2 linked regions of the Homo sapiens genome follow. The protein of the gene in region 2 interacts with the protein of the main gene of each other region in a pairwise test. Each region holds a gene or a part of one and is shown on either strand. Other genes may lie near its edges.

Region 1 (4,895 bases), on a different chromosome or scaffold from region 2:
CGAGAGCCGCCGCCATCTGTAACGTTGCCCTCACCACCCAGAGGCGAGGAGGAGAGCCCCCCATCCCTCCCGTCCCTTCCCAGCTCCCGGCAGCCACTAGGCTTTCCCCTTCCCCGTCCTAAGGGACCTCCCGGGCTCTGCTCTCTCTGGGCAGGTTCAGGGCTTTGCAAGCGCTGCTGCTGCCACCATCAGGCTGACTGAGGCACTGCAGCCTTCACCTGGCGTCAGGGCCCAAAATAGTGCCCCAGCTCTTGGTGCGGCTTCAGAAGAACAGCTCCTCTCTGCCTCCGCAGTTGCCCCTCACTCAGGTGCAGCTTCCTATGTAAGAAAAAGGCTTCAGAGGGCATCTCCCTGAAGAAACAGAACTCCTTGTGAATGTGGGGTGGACCCCAGCGTCCTCTAGCAAGACGCAGAAAAAGTGCAGGTCCTAGGATTTAGGGAACGCAACCACTGAGGGATTAAGTGGTGGTTTTGCTTTCTTTGCCACAAGGTCAGTGAGGCAGGGAAGGGTGGGAATCACTCCTCCTGCCACTCCCGGATGAACGTGCTAAGCTTCCTGTGCAATGAACCAACCGGGCCCCAGTGTTACTCTGAAGCTGTCATTGCTCCCAGCATTGCCAAGGGTGACAGGTGGACTGTCACACTGCACCAGAGCCGAGTCACCTGTGACATTTGCAGGTGACTGACAGAAATGGGCACTGACATGCATTAAAGAACAGAAGGACGCGATGGTTTCCTGTTGAAGCTGAGCAGTGGGTGGCTTGGCAGAGGCTGTTTCTCTTGGCGTTGTCTCTGGTGACCCAAAGGGCATTCAAAGCCTTCCAGAAAGGAACAACTTCCTGCAGGGCACGTCCACACTTCACTTAGTCAGGTTCTTCTTCTGCCTCCTGCCAGGGGCCCTCTCAGCATCTCTCCATGTGCTGATATTACAAGCACTGCTGGCTTCTCCTCTCATTACCCCTCATTCCATTCCAATATTTCCACACTTATTCACAGCCTTCTATGTGCCCAATAGTGTGCTAGACACCAGGGGTGATAAAAGACTTGGATTTTAATCAACCAATTAAGAGAAGCAAAGTCCCTGCCTTTGCTTCCTTCCTTTTTATTATTATTATTATTATTATTTGTCAGAACAGCCACAAAAGGAGCTACTCAAGCAGTATGTCCTTAATTACTCTTCAGCCCCAAAGCCTGGCCTGTTATTTCCTCTGGAAACTTTGTACCCCGAGGTAAAACTGAATGCCAGAAAGATAAAGAAACTGACTCAGAAAGAGTCTGGAATAAAAAAGAAATTGAACTACAATGCTGCCTCCTTGTTCGAAGGTCAGACCTGGGATTCGGATGCATGATTTTCATAGGAAACTCCCTAAAATCCTTTTCCAGTCCTAGACACTGGGGATTGCCACAAATTATAAGACTATGACCTGTCTTATGACACCACAGCTTAGGATACTCTCCTGCATTTTTTAGTGTTGATGTGGAACAGCTGGATGTACCAGCATCTTGAGGAACATCAAGGCACATGAATAAGTGAACCAGACTGAAAATGACTTTAGTCAAGCAAAGTAACCTCTCTGGGGGTATGACAGCAATAATGCCCACTTCTCATTACTTCTGCTGATGAAATGAGGTAGTGCTTGTGAAAGCCACTCTGCAACTTATGAAGCTTTACACAAATGCTAGTTATCATCACCATCATCATCATAAGAACATAATTACTGCCACGACTAACAACACCCTCAACAACCAAAAGAATTTGCCAGGCACCTACAAGAAAATTTGCTGGCAAAGAGCAAATAGAATGCATCACCTACTCCCTAGGAATGTGTCATCCAAAATAAATAGATTGTTGCTAAGAGATAATATTCAGAGAATCTTACAGTTGGAGAGGTTTTGGACGTCATCTAGTCTACTCTCTAACCCATTTCTCAGGAATTGACTCCTACATTCCTGATGGCCTGAATTCCACCGTGAGTCAGAACACTCTCAGCAATGAGAGACTGTTCAGTGGGCCAGCCTTAGACTTGAGACTTACATATCCGCAGTCATGGAAATAACACTGTCTATTTCTTGCTGAACAATCGGGGTTTTGCTTCATCATTGAGCTTGTCCTGCCAGCCTCCACCAGTTCCTGAAGAGAACAGGCCAAAGTGTGGAACATACAGGTAGATCTGATGATATTCTCTACTCTTAAATGGAAGGGTACTCAGTGCCAGAGCCTTGTAAAACATTTCCAACATCTTCTGAGTAGAATTGTTTCACTTGTAACCTTGGTTTCCCTAAAGCCAGTATAACTTAGCTTCCTCTTGAGAACAAGAAAGACATCATCAGCAAAATGTCCCTAGGTTTTTGTGCTCACCTGCTCCAGTGCTGTTTCCTCTTCTGGTTAGCACCCATCTTCAATGTTAGGCTGCCTGCGCCTCTAACTAGCCAAGGGGATCCACAAACTGGCAAATCTCATTCCTCAATGCACTCTTTCTGCTCAAGTCCAGCGTGCAGCCAGCAGTCCTGCCTCTGTGTGTTTCCATGATCTTTTTTCTTCTCTTCCACATTCTTTAGCTAACACATCATTCTGGCATTCATCTACCCACCATCCTTCTGTGCCTCCTCTCTGGAATGTGGACTAACCATTAAGGTCAGTTCCCCCCATACTTATTCTCTTGCTCACTTCATCCATCAGCTAGAAAGAACGATTAAAAAGTATATTTCCATTCAATTTTACATTTTTAGCCCCATGTGAAACACAAGAAATACCAAGAAGTAAAAATAACATGTTGATCCCTAAACCCGTGATGTAGAGAGGACCACAAACCCATAGGCTACTAGCAATGTTTCTCAGGTGTTTACTTAATTATCTCAATCCATCCTCAAAAGATGTATAATGGCACCCATGGCCATTCACGAGTTGACTCTTCCCTTCCCAACCTTCCTCTCCCACTTCCCTAACACAGCAGCACTCTAGCCATCATACTGCCCATGGCTTCTGAACATATCGCATTCTGTTCTGCCTTTTGTATTTGCATACACTGTAAGGTATGTAAGAGACTGGAAATCGCTTTTCATGCTTCGTTTAGAGAACTCTTGAGCATCCTATAATATCAAGCATGATGTCATCTCCTCTGTGCAACCTTTTCTGATGCCTTTGCTGATCCACCTGTTTTCAGAACACTCTGACAGCTCTGAACCCATCATATTGTAACCTTAATCGAAGTGTCTGCTCCCCAACCAGACTAAGAGCTCTGGGGCAGAAACATGGTCTTCATTATCTTTGCATCAAAAGCCCCAGCACAGTGCCTACTGCATAGGAGGCCCACAGTGAGTGCTGGCTGAGTGGTCAAGGGCTGAGCCTTAGTGTCATAAAATGGTATTTGATCACAAAGGAAGGAGCAGCATATTTCACCCACTGAGACACTAGACTATGTGGAGCCCCTGGGGGAAAATGTGGAATAGTGACAGCGATGTTTGTTTGTTATTGCTGCAACTCTTGGCCTCAGATTTCAGATTCCAGTTGTCCAGGCATAAGTTAAAAAGAATCTGCATAAGTTAAAAAGAAACTTGCAACAACAATCCACTGAATACAGGCCAAGTGAGCAGACCATCTAGATAATTCAGCATGATGCGCACACATCCTTTCTTATACTGACATACATAGGCCATCCATTGCAGTTTTAGTTTCAATTATCAAAAAAAAAAAATCAGCCTCAGATAAATCTACTTTGCTTTGCCTATGAAGACAGGCAAAGAGTAGGGTGAGAGCATAGCTCCCATTTGAGAAAAGTGGCTGATTCTGGAGATATCACACTGATTTAACATTAAGTGGTGTGTGCGTGTGTGTGTGTGTATGTGTTCAGTAGGGGGTCAGGAGGGCGTGGGAAGGCTTCCAGATGCCAGGAAAAACCTGTCCAGGGGATGCAGGCAGGTGTCTGTGTTTGGCTGCCCCCTTTGCAGTTATTTCCAAGGAGAAGAAGGATGACTTCCTCTTTCCACCCTTCATGCCCCAACAGAACAGCTCCACACAGAGCAGATTCACCTATGCTGGCCATTATTTCCATGGCTTTAACTTGTTACCAAGTATGCCAAGGAATAGCTGACATTTATTTAATGTTCATAGTGGTGTTGACTGTGTACGCACTGAAACATTGTATGCTTATGGAAGACATTTGTTTCCAAGCAGCTTATGCTAAATTGCAGTGATATAAAGGAAACACTTATCCAATATTGACATTTACCAACTTCTAGAAGTATACAGCCAGAATACTCATTTTTACCACTGGGAGAGGAGAAAAAGAATTAAAAAGCATAATGGTCCTAGCTCCTTCAGTGAGTTAGAAGCTATGAGTGAATGAAAGTTAACGTGCAGTAGGGGGAGGTTCAATGGGGGAGAAGATCCCCCACCCTCTTGTGACCCTTGGCTCTATGGCACAGTGTGCTTTCTGAGAGGACTGAAGCCCTTCCGTGCTTCATAATAAAGCTTTGGCAGATGGCAGGACATAGCATCCCTTCCCCAACCATGAGAGAAGTATTCTGATGATCTATAAGGTATCTATGTTCTTACTTGACCTGCACTTCTAACTGGGTAAATTCTGACTTTCTCTTGGGAAAAGAAAATGACATGCAATGACGTATGGAACAGTACTGTGTCTCGGTGCAGTCGATTCTCACATCATTCCTCTAACTGGAAATAAAAATCCCACTCTACTTGGAATACAGGATGAAGCGATTACAACCTGGGCGCAGTATACTGGCTGGCTTTGCTGCTCACTCCCTTACGAATAGCTGTGATGGGATATGAAATCCAAGGGAACTGTTAGCCCCCCAGAGCAGCTGCTCCCACCGACCCTGCTCCAAGAGTGCTGGGATGTCCGCTGGCCTCGAGGCAAGACAAGAGCTCCAAT
Region 2 (4,895 bases):
CTGCCTTGGCCTCCCAAAGCACTGGGATTATAGGCATGAGCCACCATGTCTGGCCTGTGGTAGCACTTTTGACTAACCTTTTTTTGTCTGGAGTGCTAAAAAGATGACTTTAAGAATAAATATCTCCTGAAAACTGGCTTGAGGGCCCCATTGAGTCTTGGTTAGAAGCCTGTGTTGGGGACAGTGGGCCTTCGTCTTCCGGATTTGTGTGGAGAGTGTGGCTTGTTTCGTGCAGGTGTCTGCCCAGGAGGTCAGGAAGGAGAATCCCCTCCAGTTCAAGTTCCGGGCCAAGTTCTACCCTGAAGATGTGGCTGAGGAGCTCATCCAGGACATCACCCAGAAACTTTTCTTCCTCCAAGTGAAGGAAGGAATCCTTAGCGATGAGATCTACTGCCCCCCTGAGACTGCCGTGCTCTTGGGGTCCTACGCTGTGCAGGCCAAGTTTGGGGACTACAACAAAGAAGTGCACAAGTCTGGGTACCTCAGCTCTGAGCGGCTGATCCCTCAAAGGTGAGCACAGGATGACCCGGCCTGGGCAGGAGCAGTCATGCCGTCCTCGGCAGGGAGAAGTGATTGCCTTAGAAGCACAGTTTAAAAACACAAGGACTTCGCCAGTGTCAAGTGCTCCTTCATGCTAGTCATTAAGTCACTGACCAGCGACCTGAAACATAGCCAGGGAAGGCGAGCTGCCATTCCTCATGGAAACTAAAGCGTGGCCGTGTCCTGTGGGACATGGCATAGCAAACTTCTCGACCTGACTGCTCAGCTCCTCCTGGGGTATGATAGGTTGCCCCTGTGAAATCTGTTTTTATTTAGTAATGGTCACAAAAATTACCCCATTTGGAAGAAGAGGCCACTTAAAATACCTCTTAGTTTTTCCAGCAGAACTGAGTTCTTGTTCAAAATGCTAAGTCTTCCAGATTAACTGTCATAAATAGAAATGCTGCACATCAGGAAATAGAAACCAAAGCTCTTTGGGATTGATTGATTTGAATGGAAAGTAAGGGTTTGAATGTGGGTGGTAAGTGGGCCTCCTTCCTTGCCTGTCACATTCCTTAAGGATGACAGTGCTGTTTCCTTTTGCATTCCAGAGTGATGGACCAGCACAAACTTACCAGGGACCAGTGGGAGGACCGGATCCAGGTGTGGCATGCGGAACACCGTGGGATGCTCAAGTGAGTGCTGTGCCCTGCTGTTGGGATCTTGCCATCTCCGTGCGCTCCAGCATGTCTTTTCCTGTGACTCTAGTTAGTGCTTTAAAGGGCTCTGTGTCAGGCCTTGTGAAGACCTTGAGGGAACCGAGTTAAAAGTGGGGTTTTCTTAGGGAAGAGGTTTTTTTTAAACAAAGCCAGGTGTCTTGCCTGGGGAAAGAAGCAGTTTAGCTCAAGCCTTCAGGTTCTAAAAGCTTACACCCTCCCTTTGTAGAAAGTGTTGTGTCTAAACTTCATCTTAGTCAGAGGGGCATTGTTCACCTGCAATCAGCATTATTCTGTCAAAGAGATGCTGGTTTGCTCATTATATGAAGGTACTTGTCTTACAAAGTGTATATAAATGAAAAAGGATCCCAAGTGAGAAATGCTGATGTCAGAGAACCTGGACGTGGGGCTGTTAATGTAAGACATGGCCGAGCCACCTGATTCTGGGTGTTCTCGTCCTAGAGCCTTGTCTCTGGCCTAGTCTTGCGAGTCTGCATTATTTCAGCCTCTGAAGTTTGTTTGAGGTTTGAGCCTCAGATTTTGTGCTTCAGGGTTTCCTGTCTGGCCCAAACATCCTTTATGGAAGGAAAACAACTCAAAGCCTATGAGGAGGGTTGTGGGAAGACATGTGTGGGCAAGAGAAAAAGGAGGATTGTGCTGAGTGATAAAACTTAAAAACCTGTTAGAGAAACCAGTGTGAATCAGTTCTTCTTCAAAGTGTGGGGTTTGGTGGTGAGGCTCCAGGGCAGCACGGACCCCACCCCAGGCATAGCTTCTGGGCTGTATGGGTCCCCTCCTCACCGGTCGGCTGCCCGGCCCCTGCCTGCCTGCACGCAGCACACAGCATTGAGCCCATCCTACACAAGGCGCCTTAATTTAAAAATACTGGAAAGGTTTTACTGTTCTAGATATTGAGTGCTACCAGTGACTCTGCCTGTTTCACTCTCCCCAATTAGAGATAATGCTATGTTGGAATACCTGAAGATTGCTCAGGACCTGGAAATGTATGGAATCAACTATTTCGAGATAAAAAACAAGAAAGGAACAGACCTTTGGCTTGGAGTTGATGCCCTTGGACTGAATATTTATGAGAAAGATGATAAGTGAGTTGAAGTTCACAGTTATCTTCAGTAGGTAGGGTGGTGGGCCTGGAAACAATGGCAAAATGGCAAATTTGTGGGTTATTTTTGAAGTATTTATTTAGCAACTTACTATCCCAAAGTAGGAAACTTTTTAAAGGGCTTTTGGACTGCTGTGGCCCTCTCAAAGGGTGGTCCAGAGGTGTGGGTTATCCTCTCTCATGGTGGGCGGGGCCGATAGTGGGCTCAGTCCTGGTAGAGGAAGGCAGAATAGAGCAGAGGCTGCCTCTCCTCCCCGCTGCCTCTGAGATTCCACCCCAGCTGCCTGCAGGTACCAGCACATCCATCCATAGCTACTTCGCAGGCAGCCCAGCCAGTGCTCGACTCCTGGCTCGAGGTTTGTGCTAATCCAACCAAGAATATTGATGGTGTGATGAGAGACTTGAAAAGCTGTAAACAATAGCCTGTACGTGTAGACACTTGAGCTAAATGCTGGGAGTCTGCAGGAGATATCTTAATTGCCTCGCATTAGTTACGTTGTTTGTTGAGTGAGGGCCTGTAAGCAAGCTGGGTAGAGCAGCAGAGCCAGGCCTCTCCACAGGGACAGGCAGTTCCGCTTTCACATACAGGGCATTTGCCTTCTTTCTGCTGAGGATAAACAGGGAAAGTCATCCTAGTTCATGAGGGCAAGTTTCCCATGGTGAGTCTGCGACATCAGCATAATCCTAGATTCTGGATTGATCTGATCAGAAGCTACCTGAATTTAAGAGGCAGAAGGAAACTACCTCTGGAAAGAGAAGGGAGAGGCTCCTGACTGCCTCCTGACTACCGTCTCTGCCCTGATTGTCCACAGTCAGCCTGATTGCTCTGCAGGGCTCCCCGAAACAAATCATCTGATGGCCACCAGGTTCAGGGGCCTGGCAGAGAAGGTGCCAGGGCAAGAATGCTCCTGGGGTCTTTTTGCCAAGCCCTGCCTTTTGGCCTGGGTTCCTGCTTTCCACGTAAAGAGCAGAGTGGCCCAGAGTTCCTGGATGTACCGGTTTCCTTCCCAGCCTCATGCTGTTCCTTGAAATGACAGCTCTCCCCATTTCCCACTTGAGGCTCACCCATCTCATCTGTTCTCAGATATTTTTGTTCTCAGCATCCCCACATCTCAGGTTCCCCCAAAACCCTCTCTGGAGTTCTCAAAGGGAGTGGTGCTGCTTTCCACAAATGACCTGCATGAGTCCATCTCCATTTGCAACCACGCGGATTCCTGCCAGACCCCAGGGCACAGATCTATTTCACTTGGGCAAGTCAGGGACCTGTGCCAGCTGTGCCCAACCTCCTCTCACCTCCGGGGCCCACGTGGTGATACTGCACAGGGAGGGAGGCAGGCGCTGTCACAGGAGCTCCTCAGAGAACCTGGAAATGAGATATTGAGGACTCTCGGTTCGCTCCTACTCCAAGTGTGCTGGATGCAGCATTGGTAAAGAAGCACGGAAAAGCCAGGCACAGCGGCTCACACCTGGAATCCCAGCACTCTGGGAGGCCGAGGCAGGCGAATCCCTTGAGCTCAGGAGTCTTGCCCAGCCTGGGGAACATGGCGAAACCCCGTCTCTACCAAAATTTAAAAAATTAGCTGGCTATGGTGGTGCACGCCTGTGGTCTCAGTCAGGTGGCTGAGGTGGGAGGATCACTTGAGCCTGGGAGGCAGAGGTTGTAGTAAGCCAAGATTGCGCCACTGCACTCTAGCCTGGGTGACAGAGCGAGACCGTGTCTCAAAAAAAATTTTAAAGAAGTGGGGAAAGTGGGTACTTGGAACCAGGACACCATCTTTCCGGGAGACCCTAGAGCTGAAGCCGTGGCTATTAAGACAGCCATGCCAAGGAGCAGTGCACAAAGTCCTCGTGGGAACGTATGTGGGAAACTGCCTCTGCCTTGGAAATCTCTTCAATGACCAGATTTTGTAACGTGGCCAGGCCAGGGCTGTCCAAACAGGTTTTTCAACCTGCAGGAAAACAGCCATGGGCAGGAACTTGCTGATGTCAGCTTGTAACTGCCCCAGCCCACGTAAGTGTCCATTTCTTCCAAGTAAAAACGTGAGCTGTGTGCCCTATTTAGTGCTGTTTTTGCGCTCTGCTCCCCCTCCCCCACCATTGAGCGATGAACGTGGCAACTCTCTCAGATGGTTCTTTCCCCACAGAGCATGCTGGGGTGTTGGGCAGGCTCACTTTCTGCCTCTCTTCTCCCCATTCCTGAAGGCACACCCCTCTCTTCATGAAAAAAGCATTTATGTAGATATTCAGTCATTTAATAGGCCCAAATTCTTTCCCTTTTGAACAAATATTGACAACTTGGTAGCAGCATAAGCAGGAGACTGTCCTGAAGTCTGAGGAGTGCTGAGAACTCGCCAGCTGTTGCGCTGTTACCTCTCTCGGTAGAACTAGGAGAATTAGATATGCCTGAAACATTGTTCAGGTGAGAAAGCTGATCTATTGAATATGGAAATTGAGCTCTAAGAGATTTATACTCTGCAAGTAAAGTCTCTATTAAAACACCTGTTTTAGTATTAAATAGGGTCTGGCTGGGAAATCTGTCTCTTGGGGTTCCCTTTTCATTGTACACATAAGCATTAAGT

The links. The genes of interacting proteins can lie anywhere in the genome.
Region 1: the proteins of EZR (region 2) and KIRREL3 interact in binary tests that used the Homo sapiens proteins (3 or more experiments, as listed by UniProt).

What each region holds. Positions count from the first base shown.
Region 1 is NC_000011.10:126,990,370-126,995,264, forward strand, and holds part of KIRREL3 (kin of IRRE-like protein 3 isoform 1 precursor), read right to left. Parts: exon of another isoform or gene 4,711-4,895; intron 2,166-4,710; exon of another isoform or gene 2,062-2,165; intron 1-2,061. UniProt on the Homo sapiens protein: Synaptic adhesion molecule required for the formation of target-specific synapses. Required for formation of target-specific synapses at hippocampal mossy fiber synapses.
Region 2 is NC_000006.12:158,780,924-158,785,818, reverse strand, and holds part of EZR (ezrin), read left to right. Parts: intron 1-235; coding exon 236-510; intron 511-1,091; coding exon 1,092-1,175; intron 1,176-2,152; coding exon 2,153-2,299; intron 2,300-4,895. UniProt on the Homo sapiens protein: Probably involved in connections of major cytoskeletal structures to the plasma membrane. In epithelial cells, required for the formation of microvilli and membrane ruffles on the apical pole. Along with PLEKHG6, required for normal macropinocytosis.